3 linked regions of the Homo sapiens genome follow. The protein of the gene in region 1 interacts with the protein of each later gene in a pairwise test. Each region holds a gene or a part of one and is shown on either strand. Other genes may lie near its edges.

The links.
Region 2: the proteins of FAM168B (region 1) and CCNK interact in binary tests that used the Homo sapiens proteins (3 or more experiments, as listed by UniProt).
Region 3: the proteins of FAM168B (region 1) and GLIS2 interact in binary tests that used the Homo sapiens proteins (3 or more experiments, as listed by UniProt).

Annotation. Positions count from the first base shown.
Region 1 is NC_000002.12:131,058,787-131,062,534, forward strand, and holds part of FAM168B (myelin-associated neurite-outgrowth inhibitor), read right to left. Parts: intron 1-3,748. UniProt on the Homo sapiens protein: Inhibitor of neuronal axonal outgrowth. Acts as a negative regulator of CDC42 and STAT3 and a positive regulator of STMN2. Positive regulator of CDC27.
Region 2 is NC_000014.9:99,498,386-99,502,133, reverse strand, and holds part of CCNK (cyclin-K), read right to left. Parts: intron 1,945-3,748; exon of another isoform or gene 1,369-1,944; coding exon 1,263-1,368; exon of another isoform or gene 779-1,262; coding exon 721-778; exon of another isoform or gene 1-720. UniProt on the Homo sapiens protein: Regulatory subunit of cyclin-dependent kinases that mediates activation of target kinases.
Region 3 is NC_000016.10:4,313,895-4,317,642, forward strand, and holds the start of GLIS2 (zinc finger protein GLIS2), read left to right. Parts: upstream 1-2,172; 5' UTR 2,173-2,360; intron 2,361-3,748. UniProt on the Homo sapiens protein: Can act either as a transcriptional repressor or as a transcriptional activator, depending on the cell context. Acts as a repressor of the Hedgehog signaling pathway. Represses the Hedgehog-dependent expression of Wnt4.

The sequences.
Region 1 (3,748 bases):
AAAGGAAAGCTTCACAGGTGTACACAGGTTAAAACTCATCAAACTGAAGCTTTAAATCTGTACACTTAGTTGTATGCCAATTACGCCACAACGAGGTTGTATAACATTTTCTTTAATTATAAAGAAAAAGGTAGTGTGAATGCCATCAAAGAATTATAAAGGAAAAGGTAGTGTGTCCGGCCATGTACTGATACTCCCAGGAGACCCGGGACAGTCCAATTCCCCCTAAGTGACTAGCTAACTCAGGGAAGAAATGCAAAAAGGAAGCATGGTGTGTGGCGGGCACACATGTGACTAGTGAATGGTGACTGGGGCATTGTACCAACACAGAGAGGCTATTCACCATCAACATGGGGCCATGCCCTGTCACAGCGGAGATGATCAGGACAGATCCAGCCCTCTCCATAAGGTGCTTGGCTTCAGGGGGAAAAGAAATCACAGGAAAACAAACCACCAACATAGCAGCATTTTATGCAGTCTTGGCAAGCAATGAGGAGTCAGCTCAGAGAGGGGCAGGTGGGGCAAGGATGTCTCAAATGAAAGAAACTGTGGGGATGAGGGACGTCAAGGGTCATCTTGGATAGCTCCCTTCTCCCCAGCCACACCACCTCTTTCATTTCCCACCACCATGCAGCAGCCAGACACCAGCGGGTACCTTCAGCTGTACCTAAAGGAGACACTGCCGAATGGGATCCCCACTGTACGGCTTAATCCCAGTTTTCTGCCTCATATTTCCACTAGCCTGAAAAGAGATCCTCCCAGGAGTCACCAAACTCTTATCTGACCAAGATGATATTTTTTTTATAAAAATGTCAAAACATAGAGCTACCCTCTGTGTGTCACATCCTGAGAACAGATGCTAGACTTCAAAGTTGGGAATCTCATTCCAAACTTCCAACAGTTTAAACAAACAAACCCACAGGGTTCCCTTTCTTCATACAATTAAAAACATTCATGACAGATAACTGGAAATATGAACACTGATTACAATCTCAGTAGTGATAAAAAAAATTTTTAGGTGTGACAATGACACAGTTCTAATTTATCTTTTAAAGATAATATTTAAAAAGCTGATGAATATAATGTCTGAGATTTGCTTCAAAATAATACAGAGGAAAGTGGCAGGGGCCCAGATGAAAAAGATCAGCCATAAGGTGGTAACTGCTAAAGCCAGGTGATGTGTAGGTGGGAAGTATATTCCCATGTACTTGTGCTTAAGCCAGGTGATGTGTGAGCAGGAATTTTTTTTTTTGGATGGAGTCTCGCTGTCTCGCTCTGTCACCCAGGCTGGAGTGCTGACACCATCTTGGCTCACTGCAACCTCCACCTCCCAGGTTTAAGAGATTCTTCTGCCTCAGCCTCTCAAGTAGCTGGGACTACAGGCGTGCACCACCACACCCAGCTAATTTTTGTATTTTTAGTAGAGATGGGGTTTCACCATATTGGCCAGGCTGGTGTCGAACTCCCAACCTCGTGATCCGCCTGCCTTGGCCTCCCAAAGTGCTGGGATTACAAGCGTGAGCCACCGCGCCCGGCCGTGAGTAGGAATATTCCCATGTACTTGTGCTAAAGCAAGGCAATGTGTGAGTGGGAATTATGTTCCCATGTATTTCTGTAAATATCTGAAACGTTTCCTAATCACTCTTTTGAAGTCAAAGTATTAAAAAATACAAGGAAGACTGCTACAGATTGAAAGAGATAAGAGACATAAATTCAACTTTATAAAAAATTCACTATGTGATGCTGAGTACATTATTCTGATTCCAAACGTTTTTTAAAACTTAGGGGGTAACTGGGCAAATGTAAATAGGAGCTACTTTTAAAATTAGAGACCTGCTGTTTCTAAGTGTGGACAGGCAAAAGCACACCTCACTCATGTTAGGGAGGGCTACACTCAAGTCCATTGGACAAGACACAAAGGATTCTGAATTGATTCCACAAGAATAAAAGAAAAACCACACAACACTCATCCTTACATAAGGTAAATATGGGGAAAGATCACTGGGGAATCTAAGTGGTGGGTACTATGGACATCCACTGTATTGTCCGCTCAACTTTTCTGTATACGTAATTTTTTTTTTTTGAGACGGAGTCTCGCTCAGTTGCCTAGGCTGGAGTGCAGTGGCGCAATCTCAGCTCACTGCAAACTCCGCCTCCCGGGTTCACGCCATTCTCCTGCCTCAGTCTCCTGAGTAGCTGGGACTACAGGCGCCCACCACCAAGCCTGGCTAATTTTTTTTTTTTTTGGTAGAGACGGGGTTTCACCGTGTTAGCCAGGATGGTCTTGATCTCCTGACCTTGTGATCCACCCACCTTGGCCTCCCAAAGTGCTGGGATGACAGGCGTGAGCCACCGCGCCTGGCCCAATTTTTTTAATAAGGTGGAAGGCCGGGCGTGGTGGCTCACGCCTGTCATCCCAGCACTTTGGGAGGCCAAGGTGGGCAGATCACATGAGCCCAGGAGTTGAGACGAGCCTAGCCAAGCTGGCAAAACCTCGCCTCCAAAATTTAAAAAAAAAAAAAAAGTAAAAATAAGCAAGGTGAAAAGTATACAGTACTTTCAGATGCTGACACACAACTGAGAGCGTGTACGCTAGCCAGAAAATCTCCATGGAAACAACAGTCATGCATGAGGTAAAAGAACAAGCAAGGAAGTTAGCTGAAAGGGCCCACGGATCACCACACCCAAACGCACCCCTAGAAGATGAATTATAGTCAGGCGCAGTGGCTCATGCCTGTAATCCCAGCACTTTGGGAGGCTGAGGCAGGCGGATCACCTGAGGTCAGGAATTTGAAACCAGCCTGGCCAACACGGTGAAACCCCATCGCTACTAAAAATACAAAAGTTAGCCAGGCTTGGTGGCCACACGACTGTAGTCCCAGCCACTCGGGAAGCTGAGGTGGGAGAATCAGCTGAACCTGGGAGGTGGAGGTTGCAGTGAGCAGAGACTGCGGCAATGCACTCCAGCCTGGGCGACAGAGGGAGACCCTGTCTCGAAAAAAAAAAAAAAGAAGAAGAAGATGAATACAAAATTTTGCCAAGCCTTTAAAAAGGCCATCAGCAGGAAGGATTCTATAGCAGTCTGAAAGATGCTGATCTGGAAGATGGCCTGGCAGTTAGGCATAGGCTGGAAAAAAAGTTAAACTATGCCACTGGACATGTTCAATATATACAGCCAATGTGCAACAAGAAGTTACAGTTCTATCTGATAAACTGATTCACTAAAGAAAGAATGAGAAGAAAAAGGAAAAGCTGTTAAAAGAAGTCAAAACAAGCAATAAACCCACGACCCACATCCATCAACATTGCTAATAAGAAAGTCCTTGACCTTTTTATCACTCTTCAAACTGCAGAAAGAGCTCAGAGTGAAGAGAAGATGCAAGCTGCCAACCCAAACAAACCTCTAATACAGAGTATAAAACCAAAGTGAGGAAAATCTGAGAACACCTCTCTCCAAAGAGGGAGTCTCTCAGCCACAAGTGCTCATCTGGCCCACCACAGCCACTGAAAAAAGGTGAAGTCCTTTTTCATGCCTCATTTCCTTAGGATACACAGTCGAGGGGCCCACCTACGATGTCTTCCTTTTCTTCTACTGGAAGCCTCCCACTGCAGAAATCCCTGCAGCTAGCCCTAGGTTTCCCAATCCAATCACCCAAGGTGTCTTTTTTGTTTTTGTTTTGAGACGGAGTCTCGCTCTGTTGCCCAGGTTGGAGTGCAGCGGTGCTATCTCAGCTCACTGCAACCTCTG
Region 2 (3,748 bases), on another chromosome or scaffold:
CATAACTAACCATTAATTTGCTTATTCTCCCCTAAATTTAATTAAAGTACTATAAATAAATAAACTCAAGTCTTTACTCTTCTAAAGGTACCCGACTAAGTTACTTTAACCATAGTTAGTAATTTCTCTATTCCTTAAAGAATCAGAAGAATTCTAGCACATCCAAAAATTGCTACACCAATGAAAATGACTTATGTTATTTAAACTGTTGAAATCCTAGCCACTCAACTGTTTCTTCAAATGAAATCTTATGGAGGAAGTCAAATGTAAGAGAAGCTTCACTGACTGCAGTGGGATGGGGCTGGCAGCAACTCCATTCACAGGCATTCTGTTTCCCACCACGGCCCCTCATTAGATCCCTGGCCTCTCAAAAGAGTGTTAAGGCTCTAAAACTATACCAGGAAGTATATTTTTGCAAAACCAAATGGGCTCTAAGTAATTAGTTTTCAAAATTCTCCAGTGTATTGTTTTGGACTTATGTTTCAGACTGGTGATAAAATTTCAGCACCTCACAACACCATGACACGGCAGGGCAGAAGGAAACCCTCTGCCGGGAAGCAGATGACCTGGACGTCAGCCCCAGCTTTGCCATTAACTGGCTCCTCAAGCCAGGGCAAGTCAGTTTCTTCTGACACAAAATGAGGGGTTTAGATGAAATGGTCCATAAAGTCTCTGCCTATTTTAAAATACTGTAATTAATCAACATTTGAACATGTATACCTGTCATTTACAAATGTCCATGCCATTTGAACCAACTTTTGAATTTTGTTTTTATCACCTAGAAATGGGGACAAAAAGGTAAATTAATAGCAATAGAAAAATTCACAGGCAGCATCAAGTATTTATTAAAAACCTACCACGTGTTCAGCACCACTCAAATACACAGCAAAGAGCTTTTGCGTGGGAAACAAGGATGAATGATGTGGGTCCACATCCTACCCCTTCTTCCTCCTCATGACCTACGCTGAACCACCATGTATGGAAAACCTGGCTCCAAGGCTAAGTTTATTAGTCCATTTAAAAAATTCTGCCTCATTTTCCTGCCTCTCCCATCACTTGGCAACTGGATGACAGAGCCTGTTTATACATAAAAGGAAACAGCATTAGCAGCTGCAATGCTGAATTGACTGAGCAAGCCATGCCCTTGGTATTTCACACATCAAACTTTGTTTTCCGCTTTTGAGAAGCGTAATTTGAGTGTCATCAAATTATAAAGACTTGATTTCAGAATGAAAAAATTCTTCTGAAAACTTTCTTCTTACCTTTGAGTTGCTTTGCATATTTTAGTAGGAACTGGTATGGATGTTCTACCTGTAAATCAAACTTGATGGTCTGCAGTAAGATTCTCTCCAGAACCATTACTTCCTCCTAAAAATCAATCACAAATGTTAGGACAGTAATTACAATTGCAGGTCTCAAGCAGCATTACAAAAGTGAGCTTTCCTGTCTATTTATTCTCTCTTCAAGTTATATTTTAGCAACTGCCTTTCCTTCCTTTCTCTCCCACTCAGACTTTTAACATGCTCAGAGACACTGATAAATTCTGAAAAGATCTCAAACAGGAAGACAAAGCAGAGGTGTAATGTAAAAAAAAATACTGAAAACAAAAGATCCTTAAAAATATTATTATTTTCAATACATACATGAGTCTCCCTTTACAAAACAGATCTTTACGTTATTGATAATTTGACTAAATTGTAATTTCTTTCAAGACCTCAAATTTTAAAAATGCAATCTTTTAGGAATTTTCATTGAAAACATTTTAAGCAAGAAAGAGTTTATGATAGCCAGCCTCATGAAAACTCAGAGATAAATTGTACCAGTGTGTGTGTATGTGTGTGTATATATACTCATGTACACATATAGTGTATTACGTGCAAATGGGGGCAAATCAATTTTGTGTTTAAATCTTTCATTTATTTGAAATAAATCATCCCAACAACACTTACTGAATAAATGATCATTTCCAATTTTATTTAAAATGCTACCTAAATCACCTCCTAAACTACGTGTGTATGTCTGCCTACACACACACTATCTTTTCTGTTCACTGATCTGCCTGTCTACTCCTGGACCAGGATCAAAGGGATTTGGGTGGGATACAATAGCTCCAGTATTACTTCTCTTTTTCAAACAGTTTCTGGGTTCTGCATGTCCCCCTCACTCAAATTTTAGTAACCATTTTACTTAGTATCATTACAGAAAACATACATGCTATTAATATTCTCATTGGAAACTCAGAGGATTTATAGAATAATTAGGGAGAATGGAGATTTTTAACCATATTGAAGTTTCCTTCCAAAAATTTATTAATATCTTTTCAGTCCTTTAGTTGTTTTAAAGTCCTTTCCACCCCACTAACGAGGTTTCCACAAGGTTTAACCTTGGATATTTTACTGTTGCTATCGTTAATGGAATGTCCTCTTTGATGATACTCTCTAACTAATGTCTTGAACTCAGCCCCTGTACAGCCGACTGTACCTACTGCTTAAAGACAACATAAACCACAACCAAGACACTGTGTGCGGGGAGGACAATTTGAGAGAATTCCTTGTTTGGCATCAAAGACAGGGCGTTGTAGAGGACTGTAAATCTCATCAACAGGTGCAGAGACCCACAGGTCACTGGCTTTCATTTAGAAGCATGGTATTATTTTATAGGATACAGAGATGATTCTATAATTATTATTCCAAATTACATGGCAAGACTAAGGTTTTTCAATCTTAGTTTCCCAAGCATTTTCTCATGAAAGTTTTTTAAAATCTTAGAAACTTTCACACAGTGTAAAAAAAACTGGGCTGGACATGGTGGCTCATGCCTGTAATCCCAGCACTTTGGGAGGCCGAGGCGGGCAGATCACTTGAGGTCAGGAGTTCAAGACCAGCCTGGCCAACATGCTGAAACCCCACCTCTACCAAAAATATAAAAATTAGCCAATCATGGTGGCAGGCGCCTGTAGTCCCCTACTTGGGAAGCTGAGGCAGGAGAATCGCTCGAGCCTGGGCGGCAGAGGCTGCAGTGAGCTGAGACTGTGCCACTGCACTCCAGCCTGAGTAACAAGAGTGAGACTCCATCTCAAAAAACAAAACAAAACAATTTTTTTCTTTGAATGTCATTGTCACCACCTGCTTCCCAGAAGCTTCAACACTTCCTCTAAATTTAGAAACAATTCTTTTTACCAAGTGTACCAATTGGCTTGCAGGCTGTAGCCCACATACTGTTACAGGATAGCCCAGGGCCTGCCCTCCCTCTGTCTTCCAAATATTCAATTAATGGGGTCATTATAGGTCTTTGAGCAAACATCATTCCTCAGGAACGCCTTCCCTCAGCCCCTATTTATCCGGGGGACTTGCCTGGGTCCCTGGGTGGAATGCTATCACAGCACCTTAAATGACCTTTTACAGCGTACACCACAACTCATCATCAAATAGTTATATACTCATTTGATTAAAATTTATCCTGCCACTCAACTGCAGAGTCCATGAGAGCAGAGACCATGTCTGTTCTGCCTCGTGCCTCATGTCTAGTGCCCAACACAAAGGCTGAAACGAATATTACAGAGAAAAGCCACACAATTAAAATAAAGCTAATTAAGGCAAAAAATGTTCCATGGGACTCATGATCTTATTTTTCCTAAATACTTATACTGCCTCCACTAAAGAATTGCCCTCCTGTCTGCAGAGGAAAACATCTTCCCCAATGTCTTCACTGCTCCCAGCTCCAGGTGTTTTCCTTTGGCCCCGACTCC
Region 3 (3,748 bases), on another chromosome or scaffold:
ACACCTCGACCCCAGGGCTGCAGTTCTGCCTGCCTGAGGTCGGATGCGGTCGGCTGCAGGGCAGGGCTCCGGGCTGAAGCGCAGCGATTCCCGCCGCCGTGAGGGGGCGCTCTGCGGGCCTCGGCCTCGGCCCTTCCGGACGCCCGCACAGGTCGCCGGACCCAGAGAGTCGGCCCTTAATAGCCCCCTCCTGGAAGCGCTAGGTCCCGAAACTGGCCTTCCCCCGGGGCCCATCTCCCGGCTAATGTTTAACCCGGCCACACTCCACATTATCCACACTCAGGAGACCGGGGTGAGGTGAGGGTGGAGGCTGGGGGAGGTCACCTCCAAATCGCCAACTTCCGAGCCTTTGCTCCAGGCAAACGGCCTTCCTACATCCCTTCCAGGTATCAACCTACAGCTCCTGCGCACCTACTATGTGCCCATTTCCACAACAGGTCATGAGCACCTAATATGTGTTCATTAGACCAAAACATGAGCATCCATTACGAGTCCACACCTACTATGTGTGCATTCACCCACAACGTCCTGAGCACCTACTATGTGTGCATTCTCTTAAAATGCAATGAGCATCGATTGTGTGTCCACATAACCCATGAGCACCTGCTATGTGTCCATCTGGGCACCAGCCCATGAGCACCTACTATGTGTGCATTCTCTTAAAATGCAATGAGCATCGATTGTGTGTCCACATAACCCATGAGCACCTGCTATGTGTCCATCTGGGCACCAGCCCAGGAGCACCTACTATGTGCCAAGCCTTGTGCCTGCCATGGATGCCTTGTGATCAAGAGCCACGTGCTTCGGGCTCTGGCGGGGACCGCAGCATCAAATGCACGAATGAAGACGGACTTAAAACCAGCGTCAGATGCCTCACCTCTAGGGGATGCTGATTCTGGGATGCCTTTTTCGTCTCCTAGGCTCCTCAAGGCCAACTGCGCTGGGAAGAGGGGGTGTCCAACAGCAGGAGGGCTGTTTTTTTGAACTACAATTTGCCAGCATACAGCAGAGCAGCAAGAAGATAACAGGGCGGGGGGCACGGGATTAGCCCAAACAAAACACACTCAAGAACGCGAGTCTGTGGTTCAACACGAGGCAGAAAACAGCTGGGCCGGGTGCGGGGCTTCTCCCTCGCGTGTATCCGCTCACTGCACTCGCTGCCCTGGCCGCGGGCGCCGCGCAGGGTGCTGATGTCCAGGAGGGATCTAGACCTCCCGCGGCGCTCGGGCTAGTGGACGCAGGTGGTCCCAAATGCTGGGACCAAGCTAGGAACCAAGCGGAAGCTCGGATTGCTCGGCATCGGGCCTCGTCGTTATTCTACCGTGAGGGAAACTGAGACCGAGGGCACGGCAGGGAGTCGCCCGCCGTCTCACCAGCGTGAGGGGTTGCGCCGGGCCCCGAAAACTGGTTTGCGCCGCCCGGCATCGGGATCCGGGACCTCTGCCCGCCGGGCGCTGCCTGCGCGTTCCTGGAACTGGGCTGGGCGGAGAAATCAGGGCCCGCAGAGAGGCATTCCTGCCGCCTTCCCCGCCGCCCGGGGCCGCAGGGGGGCCTGGCCAAGGTGACCCCGCGGGAGGAGGCGAGGGGTCCCCGCCCGCTCCGCCGCCGCGACCTCCTCCATCTTCCCGGTCTGCGGGGCTTTTCCTCTGGGCCCGCGCGCCCGGCCCCCTCCTCGGGCTTCCCCGAGGGCGGGACGTCTCGGGCTCCCCCGCCCCCCCAGGCCACCTCCCGGCCGTGTCCTAGCGCTGCCCTCGGGCCGGGGGCGGGGCCGCGGGGGGGGGGTGGCGTGAGGATGGGGCCGAGGAGGACGCGCGCGGCTCGGCGCCCCACTTCCCTCCCTCACCCCTCCCTCCCGGTGCCCGCTCCCCGCGGCCGCGCCGCCCTCCCTTCCCCCTCCCTCGGCCCAGCGCCGGCTCCCGCCGCCCCCTCCCCCGACGCGCACGCCCCGCCTGGCAGCTGGCGCCCCGGGCCTGGGGCCGCAGCGGTGAGAGGGGTTTTGCTGGGAGGGAGGGAGCGAGCGAGCGAGGGGAGGGGTGGAGGCCGCCCCCCGCGCCCCTCCTCCTCGCCCTCCTCCGCGGCCGGCGGGCCCTCCTCCCGCCGCCTCCCTCCTCCCTCCTCCCGCCCGCCCGCCCTCCCTCTAAGACATCCCCGCACGGCCCGGCCGCCGCGGCCACCTTCCCTGCCCGAGCTGCAGATGTGGCGGAGCGGCCGGGCGCCGGGCGGCCGTGCCAGGGGAGCCCGCGCCCCGTGAGGCCTCGCGCCCCGGCCCCCGCCCGTCCCGGCCCCTCCCCCGCTCGGCTCCCCGCGCCCCCCGACCGCCGGAGCCCGCAGCCCGGATCCCGACCGCCCCCGCCGCTGAGGTAGGAAGCCCCCCGGGCGTCGCGCCGTGGGGACCGGGCCGGGGCGGGGGGGGGGGGGCCCGCCTGTCGCGCCGGGGCTGCGGGGCCCGAGGGTCTCCTCCCCCGCTCGCGTCCGCGCCCCGGGCCATTGTGAGCCCTCGCCGAGGCCCCCGCGTTCGCTCGCTCGCTGGCTCGCGCGCTCCCTCCCTCGCCGGCTCCCCGGCCGGGTCCCTCGAGCTCTCGGTCTTTCTTCTCCCTCCTTCCTTCCCTCCGTCTGGAGGCCGGGCCGAGCAGCGCCCGGGCCCGGGGCGGGCGCAAACTTCAGCTGGGAAGTTGGGCGGCCGCGGTGGGGGGCGTGCGGCGAGGTGAGAGGGGGGTACCCGGAGCCTGGGCATGAAGTTGTCCGGGGCAGCCGCCCCTCCTCTCGGCCGCGCCGGGGCTGCTGCTAGGAAGGGCTTTGGAAGGTGCCTCCTCCCTTGGCCGGGAGAGTCTCCCTCCTGCTGCCCCTCGCAAGCCCGGGTCCTTCCTTGGACCTCGGGAAGGGGCGTCCCTGGGGGGTCAGGACTGGGAGTTTGGGACAAGTCAGGCACTTGTTACTCCCCTGCGGTCCGGGTGGACGCAGGCGACCGGCCTGGCAGGGAGGAGATGGCAAGGGGTCCATACTCGCCGGAGGGCGGGTCTGGAGCGGGTGGAGGAGGGGGCGAGGCAGGTGCATCCCGAGGGAGGAGAAGCACGCACAGCTTCCCCGCTGGCCCCCTGGGATGGGGCTGGAATCCAGGCTGGCACCTGGAGGCCTTGGCATGCTGCCCTGCCCAGCAGGGTACTCGGGCCACAGCAGGGCAGCGTGCAGCCTGTCTGCCTGTCCAGGAGGGCCCGCCCAGCCTGGCCAGAGGGTGGCCGGGAAGCAATGGTTTCAAGGAGTTGCCCAGCCCTGCCCTGGGGCCTGGGAAGCTGGAAGGGATGCTGGGAGGGGCCCTGGGCCCCCAGCCATCACAGCCCAGGATCTTGGCTCTGGAGGGAACGCTTGACACTGAGGGGGCAGCCAGGCCGGCTGGGGACCTGGCCAAGGCCTGGGCTTGGTCTGGGCCATGGAAAGGGCCTGGGCCATGGTTCTTGGAGGCTGGCACCCTGGGTAGTAGGCCGCCATCCTGCGTGTCCTGGCATCCTGGAGGGAAGGTGGGGCCAGCCTGCGGCTGGGGAGGAAGCCCAGAGACACTGCGCTTCGGAGGGCCTTCCAGCCCCCGGGCTCAGGGGAGGGGAAACTGGCCCCTTGGGTCACCCCTCCCCAAGCCCCATTCTGGTGCCACAGTGCCACAGCTGTCCAGGCCCAGCCCACACACCCATCCCGGGTGACCTCGGACCTCCCCCTCTGCTTCTCCTTCTCCCCAGAGCCCAGGCTGGGCCTCCTA